Regions from separate parts of the Homo sapiens genome. Here regions 1 and 3 are each reported to be linked to region 2. The links are microRNA targets in miRTarBase. Many come from high-throughput screens and were not tested one by one. Region 2 holds a microRNA gene; each other region holds the end of a gene's coding sequence.

Region 1 (4,195 bases), not on the chromosome of region 2:
CGCCCAAGGTGCAGACGGCGGCGGCCCCGGGCCTCGCTCGGTCGCGCTCGAGCCCCGTTTCCAGCAGCATCGCGGCCACCAGGCCGAGTGGCGCGAGACGCGCTCCTCCTAGGTCAGCGTCCCCTGGAGGGTTCGGGGCTCCCAAGTCCCGCCGCGTCGTGCGGGGCAGGGAGCCCGGGAGCCACTGGGCCTGGCGCTGTCCGCGGTGCTGAAGGAGGCGCCCGCTGCCCGCCCCGCCCGCGCGCCCGCCCACCTCCCGGGGCCCCTCTCGTCGCCCCGGTCCCCACCCCCGCCTCTGCCCCGTGTCGGGCGCGCCTCCCTCCCTGGCTGGGTTGGGCCGCACTCAAGGCAGCCCCCGCCCTCACCCCTCTGAGACCCAGGGTGGCCGTGCCCGCTCCTCCCTAAGCTCCAGGCCCTGCTGAGGCGCTGGGATTCGCCGAGTTTCGCAGCAAGCGGGTCGTCCAGCCGCAGGGCAGGAGGACACTGACCCTACCCTTCTGGCGTGCAGCCTCTGGAAGGCAGTGCCCAGGCCGTGCCCCGGGGCAGCCCCATGCGTGATCAACTCCAGCCCAGGGCTCACTGGGGCACTCTCCTGCAGGTGTTTTGCTGGTCAGGGAACTTTCCACTCTTAACCTCCTTGAACTCAACCCCCAACTTCTGGGAGGAGCTCAGCCCGCACCCCTCCGGGCTGCCAGGAGGAGAGGCACCTGCAGTCCCCTGTAACAAAAGCACTGCTGAGGACTCAAGACCTTGGGCATAGGCAGGGCCTGAAGGAATCGCCCAGTACACACCCAGGCTGGTGTCTGCTCGGTGCCTGACGAGTGACTGAGTTACTGCCAGCCTCTGCACAGCCTGGCCAGGGAGGTGCCAACCGGCTTCCTCCACAGCCACAGGCAAGACTGTTGACCACTGCCCTGCCCCCACTGGCACAGCAAAAGTAGGGGAGGGGCAGAAGACAACACGGGGTCAAGGGCACCCCACAGAACACCACAAACAGCCTTAGCAGGACACTCACACCCAGGAAGCAGAGGGATGGCCACTCAAGCAAGCTGGGGGTCCTCTGAGGTGCCCTCAGGCTGGGCTGCCGCGCGTGCTCTTTGAAGTGTGTAGCTGACATGCATCTCAGCTGCCCTTTAACCTGTGTAAAATCAAGGGTCTTGTCCTGTGAGTCTCGTCCAGATCAGCTCCAGGGAGATGATCTATCACTGCTTTCCATCTTCTACTTTCCATCCGACCCTTGGGCTGTGTCCCAAAAGCCAATGATTCGATAGGAGAAACTCTAGGATTTCAGATGTCCAGTACGTGAACAAAAGAGGGGTCCATTCTGCACCCACCGCCTCTACCACAACTCCCACTGGTAGAGCTGGTTCACATTTCAAAAGAATCACCATTTTTTCAAATGTCAGATTTCTTTATTAAAATGTGCACATTATAGTTTACTTAAATACAAAATGTTCACTTTCCTTGCAGGTAAGAAATTTCACTGACATTTCCATGTCAATTAGCTTCTTTTTAATAAAAATCCTTCCACTGAAAATAAATAAGCATTTAAATTACTGAACTATTATATTCATTAGTCTCAATACCTCTTAAAATACTTAAAACTTTAGAAAATAGACTCTAAACATTGCCTAAAGGTGGCATCCAGCTCTGAGCAGGCCACACAAGGTGTGTCTGAGTATGGCCATATGACTCCTGGGGCCACCTCCACGACGGCCCAGCCCCACCGACGCTCTGCTGAAAATCCTGCCCCTCAGCAGGACGCAAGCTTGTTCCCCAAATAGTGGTGACCTCAAACTGCAATATGATGAAACCTGCAGCCAACACTGCCCTCCACAAGGGTTTCTGGAAAGGCTGAAGCTGGAGACGGTAAACCACAACACCGTCCCAGGTCACTCCAGGTCACCCCAGCTAAAGACATTCAACACCAGCCAAAAGGCTAAAGTTTAGTTTGAAGGGTTCAAAGGCAAATACACTGAAACCCACGTGTAAACCTGCCTGGTTTTCAAACTGGAAGAGAAACACTTTGGTGTCTTCAATAACCCAGGCCTGCACTGGATGAAGCAATGAAGGCAAGGTCACGGCTGCTAAAGCACAGAGGGGTTAAAAAGTGTGAAACCAGAAGCAACTCTCGAGTGAGACACGAAGCAGCAGGCTGACGCACCAGACACCGCTCCCACCAGACACCTCTCCCGCCAGCTGCAGGGCCCTGGGCAGCGTTCTCAGCCCAGCCATTCTGTGACAGTTGTTGAAAGAATCAGCTGTTGCCTTTTTTTCTCAAGCGACAACAATCACATCAATATTACATGGTCTTATGAATACATCCATGTCATCAACTTGTTAGTAAACACATGATTATACAACATAAAGTAGGCAAAGCGGAAAAAATATCTACAACCGTCAAAGTCTCTCTCTCTCTCATACACACACACACACACACACACACACACACACACACACGGGCACACAAATACATCTGAGCCTATTTTAGCCAAATCAAATTTTGCCTGTGAGACACACCAATAGCCACAAAGAATCTCAATATAAATGTTCCCAGAAATAGTGTATTTGTTTGTTTACATCTTCAGAGGCAACGGACCACTAAATGTTTTGGGTTTAAAAACAATGTTTAAAATTATCAAATGGTAAAAGACATCATGACAAAAGCTTGGGAGATCAGTGCCTGTGTGGAGACCCTTCCCAAAACAGCTTCAGGCAAAGGAAGCCTGGCCCCCTCCGTGGGCCGAGTGAGATGCTTGTGTGTGCAGCAGGTGCCTCTGTGGTGCTGGGTGAAGAGCAGACGACAGGGGGGGCTTTAGAAGTCTCCCTGGGGCCTACGCTCCCAAGGGCAGACTGCTCTCCTCCCCATCCCCCAACAGAGGGGCCTGTGCTCTAAGCACTGCCCGCTGAGCCCAGAGCTGCCCTCCAGGCACCCGCCGTCCCAACGGCCCCCATTTACTTGTCTCTCTCTTGTCACCAGATAGACAGACAAAGGCGCTGCCTCTGAGGGTTAAATGAGCCCCCATCCTTCCAACCCCCAGGTCCACAGCCCAAGGCCTCTGGGGGTTATTTTCTGAAACGCAGCACAGCCACAGAATTCCTTGGCTCCTCCCCTGTTGAAATCCCCACGTCTGGTGTCGAACACCCGGAGGAACAAGGAGAGCCCTCAGGAACCTGCCCTAGGGAAGCAGCTACAAACACAGGATAGTCCCTGGAGCACTTGCTTGGAGGGGCTGCAGAGGCCGACTGCGCTTCCGGCTCTGTCTGTCCCCGCCCGGCTAAAGGAAAACACTTGGCAGCCTGGAGCAGGGGGCGTGGGGGGAGCGGGGGGAGGGGGAGCGAGGGGAGTGGGGGGGAGCCAGGAGCCGCGGGGGGGATGGGCGAGGTTCTCCAAATACAAAAACAAGGCCCTGCAGGATGGGGCGGAGTGGAGGAAACGAGATGAAAGTGTGTGGGGAAGACTATCTGGCCTGGACTCTGCACCCTCTTTTCACATCTAGAAGAGTAAAAATACAGAAGTCTTTTTGCTGTAAGACCTGCAAAAGGAGCATGAACAGACTTGAGTACGCCAGGAATGCAAATATCCCCACAAAATTACCCCGTGTTCTTCCCTTGTTAGAAGAGCGTTTGTAAAACCAGGACTTTGAAGCCAAAAGGTGCCATCCGATGTGAAACCAGGCCCGCATGTTTATAAAATCCCTGATCATAAATATTAAAGCTGCAGGTGGCACGGGGCAGGGCTGCCTCCAAGGGAGCTTCCGCCGTGGCTGGCAGCACCCGGGCACTCACACGGCCGGGTGGTGGTGCTTGACCTTCCACCGCCTGGACCTCACCCGGAAGAAGAAGTACATCACCATGAGGAACAGGGATGAAGCCACGTACAGCACGACACAGAGACTCATGTCCAGGCTGGAGAAGTCAACCCCGAGGAAGGGTGCGGCCCCGCCCACCTCCTTGTGGGCCCCGGGCCCATCCAGACTCTGGAGTTTCCCGTCCAAGCTGTGATGCAAGCTCTCTGGAAGGGCAGGCCTGGGGCCCAGTGCACCAGGTGGACGGACGCTCTGGGTGTCTCGGTCTCCATGGGACACCTCTGGGGGAGTGAGTCTTTTCTCCTCTTCCTCACCCCTGGCCAGGGTTCCTCCTTCACTGGAATCCCCCTGGTCTGCGGAATACGTGTCTAAGAGGTTGTCGCGGC
Region 2 (4,195 bases):
AAGAATGGTTTGCTTCTATTTGTCATTTGTGATTGCCCATGAAGGCAGCGCTGGGGATGAGCCGTGGGAGCTGTCAGCCCCGCACCAGGTGCGTGCATGTGGGAGGTCAGAGGGCGCCTGCTTCTGCCTCGATGTCTGTGCCCCGTCTCTGACTGCTGGCTTTCTGCTCACACCTAGGATGGCTGCCTGAGAATGGGACTCTTGTTCTGTGTTTGTGGAGACACTCCTTGGGCCGTGTGACTGCCGGCTTTTTACACCCCGACTGCCATGGGGGTCATCTGGACCCGAAGCCAGCTTCAGGAAGGACATTCGCAGCATCCTCAGCCCAAGGAAAGCGAACGTCCAGCTGAAGAGAGGTGAGCACCACGCCTGGGTAATGAGTCACATAACCTGCCACCTGGACCAGGCGGCTCCCGCTCCTCTCCCCTTCTTGAAGGAGAGACCACTGTGGGGAATGGGCTGTGGGTCTGCTTCCTCAGTTACTTGGGGGTACGTGGGGTTTACTACTGTTGACCCTGTGCTCTTTCTTAGCATGGCTTCATGGCCACGATGCCAGCCTCTGGCAGGGGTGGGGCAAGGGCTGGCATGGAGAATGACACTGGTGTCAACGGCTCTGTGAGATGGATGAAGGGATGGTGACCACAGGGCCTTTGCTTTGTCTAAGGTGTAAATTCATCCAGTGCCTGGGACCTCGGTGCTGAGTGCATCCTTAGGAAAACTTCCTGGAGAGGTGCCCACACTGGGAAGGAGATGGTGGTCCCACCCCAGGGAATTCCTATAGAAAGTGAGAAGCTGAGCTCTGCGTGTGCCCAGGAAGGCCCGTGGGGTGGATCTCCTTTTCAGGAACAAGTTCTAATCTGGAGTGATGCCTGGAAAAGAGGCTGATTCTGGTGAAGGGGCACTGGCGTCTGCCCCTTCCTGGCCCCTTTGGGATGGAGAGCTGACCTATGGGCACACAGCTGGCAGGTGGTGTTTGCCACCTGGTCTGCTGATCCCGCATCTCCCACCCCCTCCCCCGCCAGGATGAACCCCGGGAGAGGAGGCCGGCCCCGTGAATGATAGTGAGGAACCTGCCCAGTGCTATTGTTTGGTACTTAAAGCGAGGTTGCCCTTTGTATATTCGGTTTATTGACATGGAATATACAAGGGCAAGCTCTCTGTGAGTATCAAACCTTGTCTTGGACCCAGTCCACACTCAGCAAGGGATGCGGTATGTGTGTGCATGACCGTGTGTATCCGTTTTGTGTGTGGCAAATCGTTCACGGGTCCCCACTTCACAGAGAGGACTTCACGGGCACCTGGATGACTTTAGGGAAGGCAGTGGCCTCTGGGACATCCCCTCTCCTGGTGCAGTGTGGGCGGGGCCAAAAGCATGCACGATGTGTGTGGTCTGGGTCCCTGCTTCCTGAGCGGGAAGTCATCAGCCCGGGCCGATGGCTGGGGTGGCGCTCGTGTGGGGTAGTGGCTTTGTGGTCCCTGCTGTTACTCGGTCCGTGAGTGTGCATGTTCTGCTTGGGGTATGTGACCCGGTCCACTAACCCTCAGCATCTAATTCATCCCCAGGACCGCGCCTTGAAGACGTACCAAGTCCACCCAAGGCAGTGGCTTTCTTTTCCGTGCTAACCTTTGGTACTTGGAGAGTGGTTATCCCTGTCCTGTTCGTTTTGCTCATGTCGAATCGTACAGGGTCATCCACTTTTTCAGTATCAAGAGCGCAGACTCTGGAGCTCGATTTCCTGTGTTTGGATCCCACCTCTGACATTTACTAACCGTCCAACCTTGGGCAAGGATCTCATCGTGCTGTGCCCATTGTCTCACATGTCAAAGGGGAATCACATTGGCGTCCATTTCTTGGGGCTGCTGGGGCTGAACGAGTTAAGACTTGTACACGGCTCAGAGCAGAGCCCCGTGGTCGGCACTTCGTAGGTGGTAGCCAGGACCCTTGTGTGCTGTGAAACTATCATTGGTGGTGGTGGTGGTGGTGGTGGTGGTGGTTTTATGACTAAAATCTCTCCATGGGTTTTTGGAACAGTGTCAAAACATGGAAGTCAAGTCCTTCATCGGGTATGGAATGGACTAGGAAGCCCAGAGCATACACGGTGTTTACAATGGGGGCTAGTGATGCTCTTGATGCTTGGCAGCTAAGCCATTCACACAGTGGCTTTTGATACAGAATGCCACATGCAGTGGGGGTCAGCAGGGGTGCCGAGAACATTTGCTCCACTTAAGAGAGACAGTCCCTGGGTTCTTGACCTCGGCCACTATCTACGCTTTGAAGGAGTCTTGAGCGAGGATGCCAAGCTGAGTGAGGATTCTATGGCATCTTGCTTCCCTGGTGCTTAAAGAGAGGTCAAACTTGGTGCATGCATTGTGCATGCCTGTGTGTGCGTGGTGTGTGTGCATGAGCGAGTGTGTGACTGGGTTTGCCACGAAGCAGTCACCATCTAACCTTGAGCCAAAGACCTGGAGGTGGTGGTCCGTGCTGCTGTTTCATACTTGAGGAGAAATTATCCTTGGTGTGTTCGCTTTATTTATGATGAATCATACAAGGACAATTTCTTTTTGAGTATCAAATCTTGCCTCGGCAGACTTCCTGGACGCCATGACAAGTTCTGTAAAGGGATGCACGCATCAGCCCTTCCCAGGGGCTCACGCCTGGGTGGGGATGAGGGCGCATGCAGTTGGTTTGTGGTGGGGACACTTGTGCCCTAACCTCAGAACCCTGGAGGCGGGGCCACGCTTGGCAGGGGGCCACGGGACTCCTTGGTGCTATCAGGGATTTGCATTGGCCATGGGTGTGTGTTGTGGGTGACGCAGCATTCAAGCTACTTATCAAATCCTGCTTCTTGGAGGCACTTCTTGGACATGAAGCAAACCTTAGGGACCGATCATTGGGGCCAGACCCCCTTCCCCTGCCCAAGAGTGTGACTGACCCCCAGGCATGGGCTTGACTCTCAATGTGTGAAGCTGACCTGCTAATCCTCATTGTTTGGACTACCTGAGAAGAACTTTCTGGAAGAGACACCAACTTTGGAGAAGATGCCCAGCTCTTCTTGATGGCACAGTTCTTTGGTGCTTAAAGAATGGCTGTCCGTAGTATGGTCTCTATATTTATGATGATTAATATCGGACAACCATTGTTTTAGTATCCAAATTTGCTTCAGAAGTTTTTGAAAGCACAGTGCTGACTTCAGTGAGGGGACATTGGTGCCTGCCCCACCATGGAGTGTGACTGTGTTGATGATTTATAATGATGAATCCAGTGATCTCAGAATGCAAGCCACCAGTGTGATTTCCTTGGACAAATGCTAGCTTTGGGGTGGAGATGCCATTTAGGGGCTTGGTGCCATATCTTTTTATTGGAAGATGTTCACAATTATTTCATCTCTCTTTCTCTTCTTGTTATTAAATCTTAGCCACGAGGAATTCCTTGGAGAGATGCCGGGGTCAAGCCTCTCTCTAGGTAGATGGTGGACCGGGGAACCTGGGTCCAGCCTCTCCTATCTGTAGCCTTCATTCTGAGTATGAAACACTTCCTGTAGGGAATGCAAACATTAGTAAAAACTCCGTACATTTCCTGTTACTATTACTACTTTTTGGCAGCTCCTAAGCAGCTGCCTGTTGGGTATTTGGATTATTCTTGGTGGACGTGGCATGGCTTCGTGCCTTCCTTGGGAACCACCCCATCTTAGACAGACTCTCATGGAATAAGACGTTGTGGTCGACAGCACCTCTGGGGTGTGTGTGTGTGTGTGTGTGTGTTTGTGTGCGTGTGCATATGAATAGTTGGCTAGAGTAGTGTTTCTCAAACTTTAAAAATGCTCCTAAGATTTTCATCACCTAGGGATCTTGTTAAAAAGCAGATTCTGATTCAGGGACCAAGATTCTGCATTTTTAGCAAGTTCTCAAGTGATGCTAATACCGCCGGTCTGTGGACAACACTCACAGTGGTTTGGGGCTGGAGACCAGGTGCTTTCCCTGTGATATGTGTCGCCTGTCTCCCCACATGCCATATACCGTCCATCGTGGGAGAACGGCCCAGAATCAACGTGCCATGTTTTGGTTTGTGAACAAGGGTTCACTTTCACATGCGTAAATAGCATGAGATTACTTTTCTTTAAAATCAAATCATGCCTCAAAGGGCTTCCCAGATACAAGACCTGCTTCAGGGAGGGGCCGCCGGTGTCAAGCTGCT
Region 3 (4,195 bases), not on the chromosome of region 2:
GTGGAAAGAGTTGGACTTAATAGTAGTTAATTTATTTTTGTTTATTTTCTTGTTTTTGTATTCTTTATTTTTTGTTTGATAATAGTAGTTCATTTAAACTTTGAGGCTCACTTGCTGGAGTGTGTAATTTGTCAGGGGGCTGTGACTTCACATCATGTAAGTTAGTGTTATTGATGTGCTTTTGCTTTATTCATTTAGAGATGGTTTCACTCTATCGCCCAGGCTGGAGTACAGTGGTGCAATCAGAGCTCACTGTAGCCTTGAACTCCTGGGCTCAGGCCATCCTTTCACCTCAGCTTCCCAAGTAGCAGGGACTACAGGCATGTACCACCATGTCCAGCTAGTTTTTAAAATTTTTCTGTAGAAATGGGATCTTGCTATGTTATCCAGGCTGGTCTCAAACTCTTGGGCTCAAGTGATTCTCCTGCCTCAGCGTCCCAAAGTGCTGGCATCACAGGTATGAGCCAAGTACCATTTACCAAGTGACAACTATGAAATACATGCTGGAAATAATAATCATAAATAAGCCAGTATATTTCATTTTCCAAATGCTATGATATAAATATATCACCTGATTTCCTCCTAACTCAATTCTCTCAGCAATCCTATAAGATGGGTACTATTATTATCCCCATTTTATAGATGAGGAAGTTGAGGCTTAAGGAGATTTAAATAATTTGCCTCACATGCTGCAACTAGTAAGTGGGAGAGCTAACAGGTCAATCTAGGTCTGACTCCAGGACCAAGTGGCAGTGAAGTTGGTTGGTCTTGTCCCCCCCCATCCAGGATCCTGGTGAACATGGACGACAACATTGTGAAGCATTACTCCAATGAGGACACCTTCCAGCTGCAGATTGAAGAAGCCGGGGGGTCTTACAAGCTCACCCTGACGGAGATCTAAAGGCCTGCGGGCCACAGCTCCCCAGGAGTTCAGTGCAGGTGTTTCTAGATCTTACGGTTTGGCAACTGCAGGTAACCCCAGTCAGCCATGTCGCCAGCACAGGTCTATGTCGAGGGAATGGGTTCCTTGCAGGTTGGAGGCGGGGCTGCATCTGGCTTGGTGGTAGCATTTAATCTATTGCATTGGTGTTTTTCAGATGAAAGAGAAATCCATATACCATTATGTTTGAATTTCCTGATATATACAGGATTTAAAGTGAAAACTTTATTCCAAGAGTTAACAGAGTCTCTGGGAAGCTTTAGGACATCTGCTACGTTATTTATCAAAATATTGGGATCTCTGCCTTGTGCCTACAGTGTCGTGGGCCTGCTCGCTAGCAGAAGTCAGAAAAGGCGATAGGCTTGGCTTTAAGGATTTCGTGCCCTTGCCTGAATTCAGTACAACTCCACTGCCTCACGTTAGCGGGAGCGCACCTGAAGAGTACGGGGGGAGCCCTCTCTCCCTTACCCTCTCACTCTCCACCAGATGTTTACTAAACAGGGCATGTTACTGAAATCTTCCTTTGCGACTTTCTCGGACATATCAACTGCCTTTCTCATGAAGAATTTTAATGGGTTACAGTATGAAATCAGTTAAGATAAAGCTGCATTGTATATAAGTGCAATATATTTTTGAAGGTCTGTAAATGTGTACATACATGTCTTATATAAATATATAATATATAAATATGGTGTCTGTGTACATATAGTGAAGATATGCAGTAAGAGCTACCTTAAAGACTTTCCCTAGACAAAGGTTAAGTTATTTTTTGATCGTGTATACCAAGCAGATAGAATACTGTGCTTAGTGGAACCCGCTAAAAACCTTTTTCTCTGTTTTTCCAAACACAGGCATTCTGTAGCATAGCAAAACCTTCTCAAATGACAGAGATTCTGTTTGCTGTTGAGAATGTTGTTATTTGGATTTCTGCACTGTTTAACAAATGAAGTAAAAGAAAAACACTACTGCAATCACGTCTTTTGTTATGCTAGTATCAGTCAGATGCACTTAGAGTGAAGAAACACTGTAATTACAGCACACAGATTGCAAGTATTGCGTACCAAGTGATACAACTCGAAATGCAGTTCTCATCTTCCTGTTTTGAGAAATGATTATTTTATCACGCATCAGAGCCTTCGTGCTTTGATTATCTTGTATGTTAACAATTCTAGAAAACATTCATGAATTCACAAAAATATGTTACTATGGCAGGGGAACATTTTGTACACATTTAAGTATATAAAAATACTAAAATATGTAATTTTATAACAAAGTCACGGGTATCTTTAGGTTCAGGGAACTAGACTAGGTCATTCGTGTAAATGGACTGGTAGTTACAGTCTTAGGTTAAAGTATTCTAATGAAGTATGGGAACTAAATTGCTGGTTTTCTAAGATAAGATATGGGATATGGGTCATATAACTTTTGTATTTTTTATGAAGTTGATTTTGTCTTGCGTGTTATTTTTAATTGTATCATTGAAGATGTATTTTAAACCAAAGGAATTAAATTTTATATGTCTATTTCGTAATATGTCATTTCCTGTTTTTCAATTTGACTTTGCACTGCTCAGTAAAACGTGAGAGCTGAAAAGCATCTCATTGCTAGCACTTTCTGCTTATTTCTTAATGTGTGCGCTTAGGTTGTTTTCTTCATGTTAACTTTTCCTTACTGATGCCTGAAATGATCCACGTAATTGTTAAGTCAGGGATCCCTGAATGATTTTCCAATTCTTACCAAAATTTAACCACTAAAGCTGAAGGTAAATGCTTTCATACCTAAAATCTTAGTATTCTTAGTGTTTAAAAGCCTAACAGAAAATACTTAGTTTAAAAATTTACCAATATTTAAATCATTAGAATCTCTAAAACAGGCGTCCTGAACATATTCCAGGGTAATCCAGGGCCTAAATATGATAGACACTAGGATATATTTTTAATGGATACAAGATCAGATTAATGACGTAAACTCCCTGATAGGGCTCCTGGGACATCTGCACTTTTCACAGTAACCCTCGGGCCAAAGTGGAGACTCTCCTGCAGCCTGGGTTCCCGTTCACTCAGTGCTTCCAGAGTCCAGCTCCACACAGGAAGCCTGGGGACCCTGCCAGCGCATCCTTTCTATGGGAGCCCTTCCTCACACCATGGGTCTCCTTCACCCCCTGGCTTCCCGGGACTTACCTTTGCCTCAAAACTCATCTCTTCCCGGGCGTCCCCAGGGCCATTACCTCTGGTTCCTCAGCCCAGCACCCACTCCCTGCTCTCACGGCTCCAAGTACTGACAGACACCTGCTGGCCCTCTTCTCAGCCTCTCGTTTCCTGGAGAGCAGGTTTTGGTGTCTTAGCTTTGGATCTCTGGCACCCAACCCAATGCTGGTTACATAGTTGATGCTCAGTGAATGATTCTGTAATGATAAAGCGACTAGTTTATCCTAGGAACTGCCTTCAAGTAACACAGTCACTTGCAAAACATCAGCAGGGAGCGTTTTTAGACATTACAGGCCCAGAAATCAGTCGGGGCTGGACTCGGACCAGTAGGCCACAGAGCAGGACCAGTAGGTGGAATTATCTGGGACTCAGGTGTGTGCCACTGTGCCTGGATTTCTGGCCTGGATCTTTGCAGTAACCCAACTGGACTCATCGTTTCCATCCCTGGGCCCCTTCGTTTTATTCCTAATCTAGGAGCCATGATGATTCTTCTAAAATATAAATTAGGACTCTGCTCAGAACCCTGCAGTAGCTCTCCGCTTCACTCATAATGTAGACGGGATCTGTCCTCTGGCCACTGACCTCAAATTACACCATAGCTGAAGGTCCTGCAGAGTTAGGCCTGCTGAGGTTACGCGATGTCGAGAGCAAATGTCGGCATTCCGGTAATAAATGCCTTTGACTCTTAGTTTTCCGTTGCTGAAAGTCATGTTGGAGACGTTTGCCCAATCTTGGTCATGTTTCCAAGAAGAAAGACTCGTTTTATGAGCCTCATGGGATATTGATGGTATTAATAACAAGATGAGTTGAAGGCTGAGCATCAGGATTGCCATTCTTAGCAAATACTTCTTTCTCCCTATTAAAATTCATCAGAAGCAGTTCACTTGCAGCTGGCAGGGCCAACGATACACCTTCAGTGTCCCCCCTCGGGCTCTCCTGGATTCCTCAGCCCAGCACTCACTATGTGAGGGGGTCTGGTCTGCAGCAACTGTGGTCAGCTTTCCAGCCCACAGGGCATCAGTCAGCCCATCCCATTGCTGAGAGTGCA

Evidence for each region. The annotated mature microRNA hsa-miR-539-3p reads AUCAUACAAGGACAAUUUCUUU and lies in region 2 at 2,541-2,562, shown strand. An mRNA with a match to its seed (bases 2 to 7 or 8) in the 3' UTR can be bound and repressed. Matches are read on the target gene's strand: a 7mer-m8 pairs with bases 2 to 8, a 7mer-A1 pairs with bases 2 to 7 and ends in A, and an 8mer does both.
Region 1: miRTarBase lists QSOX2 as a target of hsa-miR-539-3p. Seed matches in the 3' UTR shown: 7mer-m8 at 2,419-2,425.
Region 3: the mRNA of GRHL1 is a reported target of hsa-miR-539-3p. Seed matches in the 3' UTR shown: 7mer-A1 at 1,522-1,528.

What each region holds. Positions count from the first base shown.
Region 1 is chr9:136,204,943-136,209,137 of GRCh38, forward strand. It overlaps QSOX2 (quiescin sulfhydryl oxidase 2), which reads right to left. Exons shown (of 12, transcript NM_181701.4): 12 at 1,391-4,195. The coding sequence ends at 3,786. It overlaps LHX3 (LIM homeobox 3), which reads right to left and starts at 186. Exons shown (of 6, transcript NM_178138.6): 1 at 1-186. The coding sequence starts at 70. RefSeq lists enhancers at 3,493-4,044, 4,045-4,195.
Region 2 is chr14:101,044,829-101,049,023 of GRCh38, forward strand. It overlaps MIR539 (microRNA 539), which reads left to right and starts at 2,493; the gene lies at 2,493-2,570. It overlaps MIR381HG (MIR381 host gene), which reads left to right and starts at 329. Exons shown (of 3, transcript NR_104192.1): 1 at 329-356. It overlaps MIR381 (microRNA 381), which reads left to right and starts at 1,092; the gene lies at 1,092-1,166. It overlaps MIR487B (microRNA 487b), which reads left to right and starts at 1,627; the gene lies at 1,627-1,710. It also overlaps MIR889 and MIR544A. RefSeq lists enhancers at 937-1,437, 1,438-1,938.
Region 3 is chr2:9,999,807-10,004,001 of GRCh38, forward strand. GRHL1 (grainyhead like transcription factor 1) reads left to right here. Exons shown (of 16, transcript NM_198182.3): 16 at 787-2,471. The coding sequence ends at 901. LOC124905970 (a long non-coding RNA gene) reads right to left here and starts at 3,694. Exons shown (of 2, transcript XR_007086207.1): 1 at 3,121-3,694.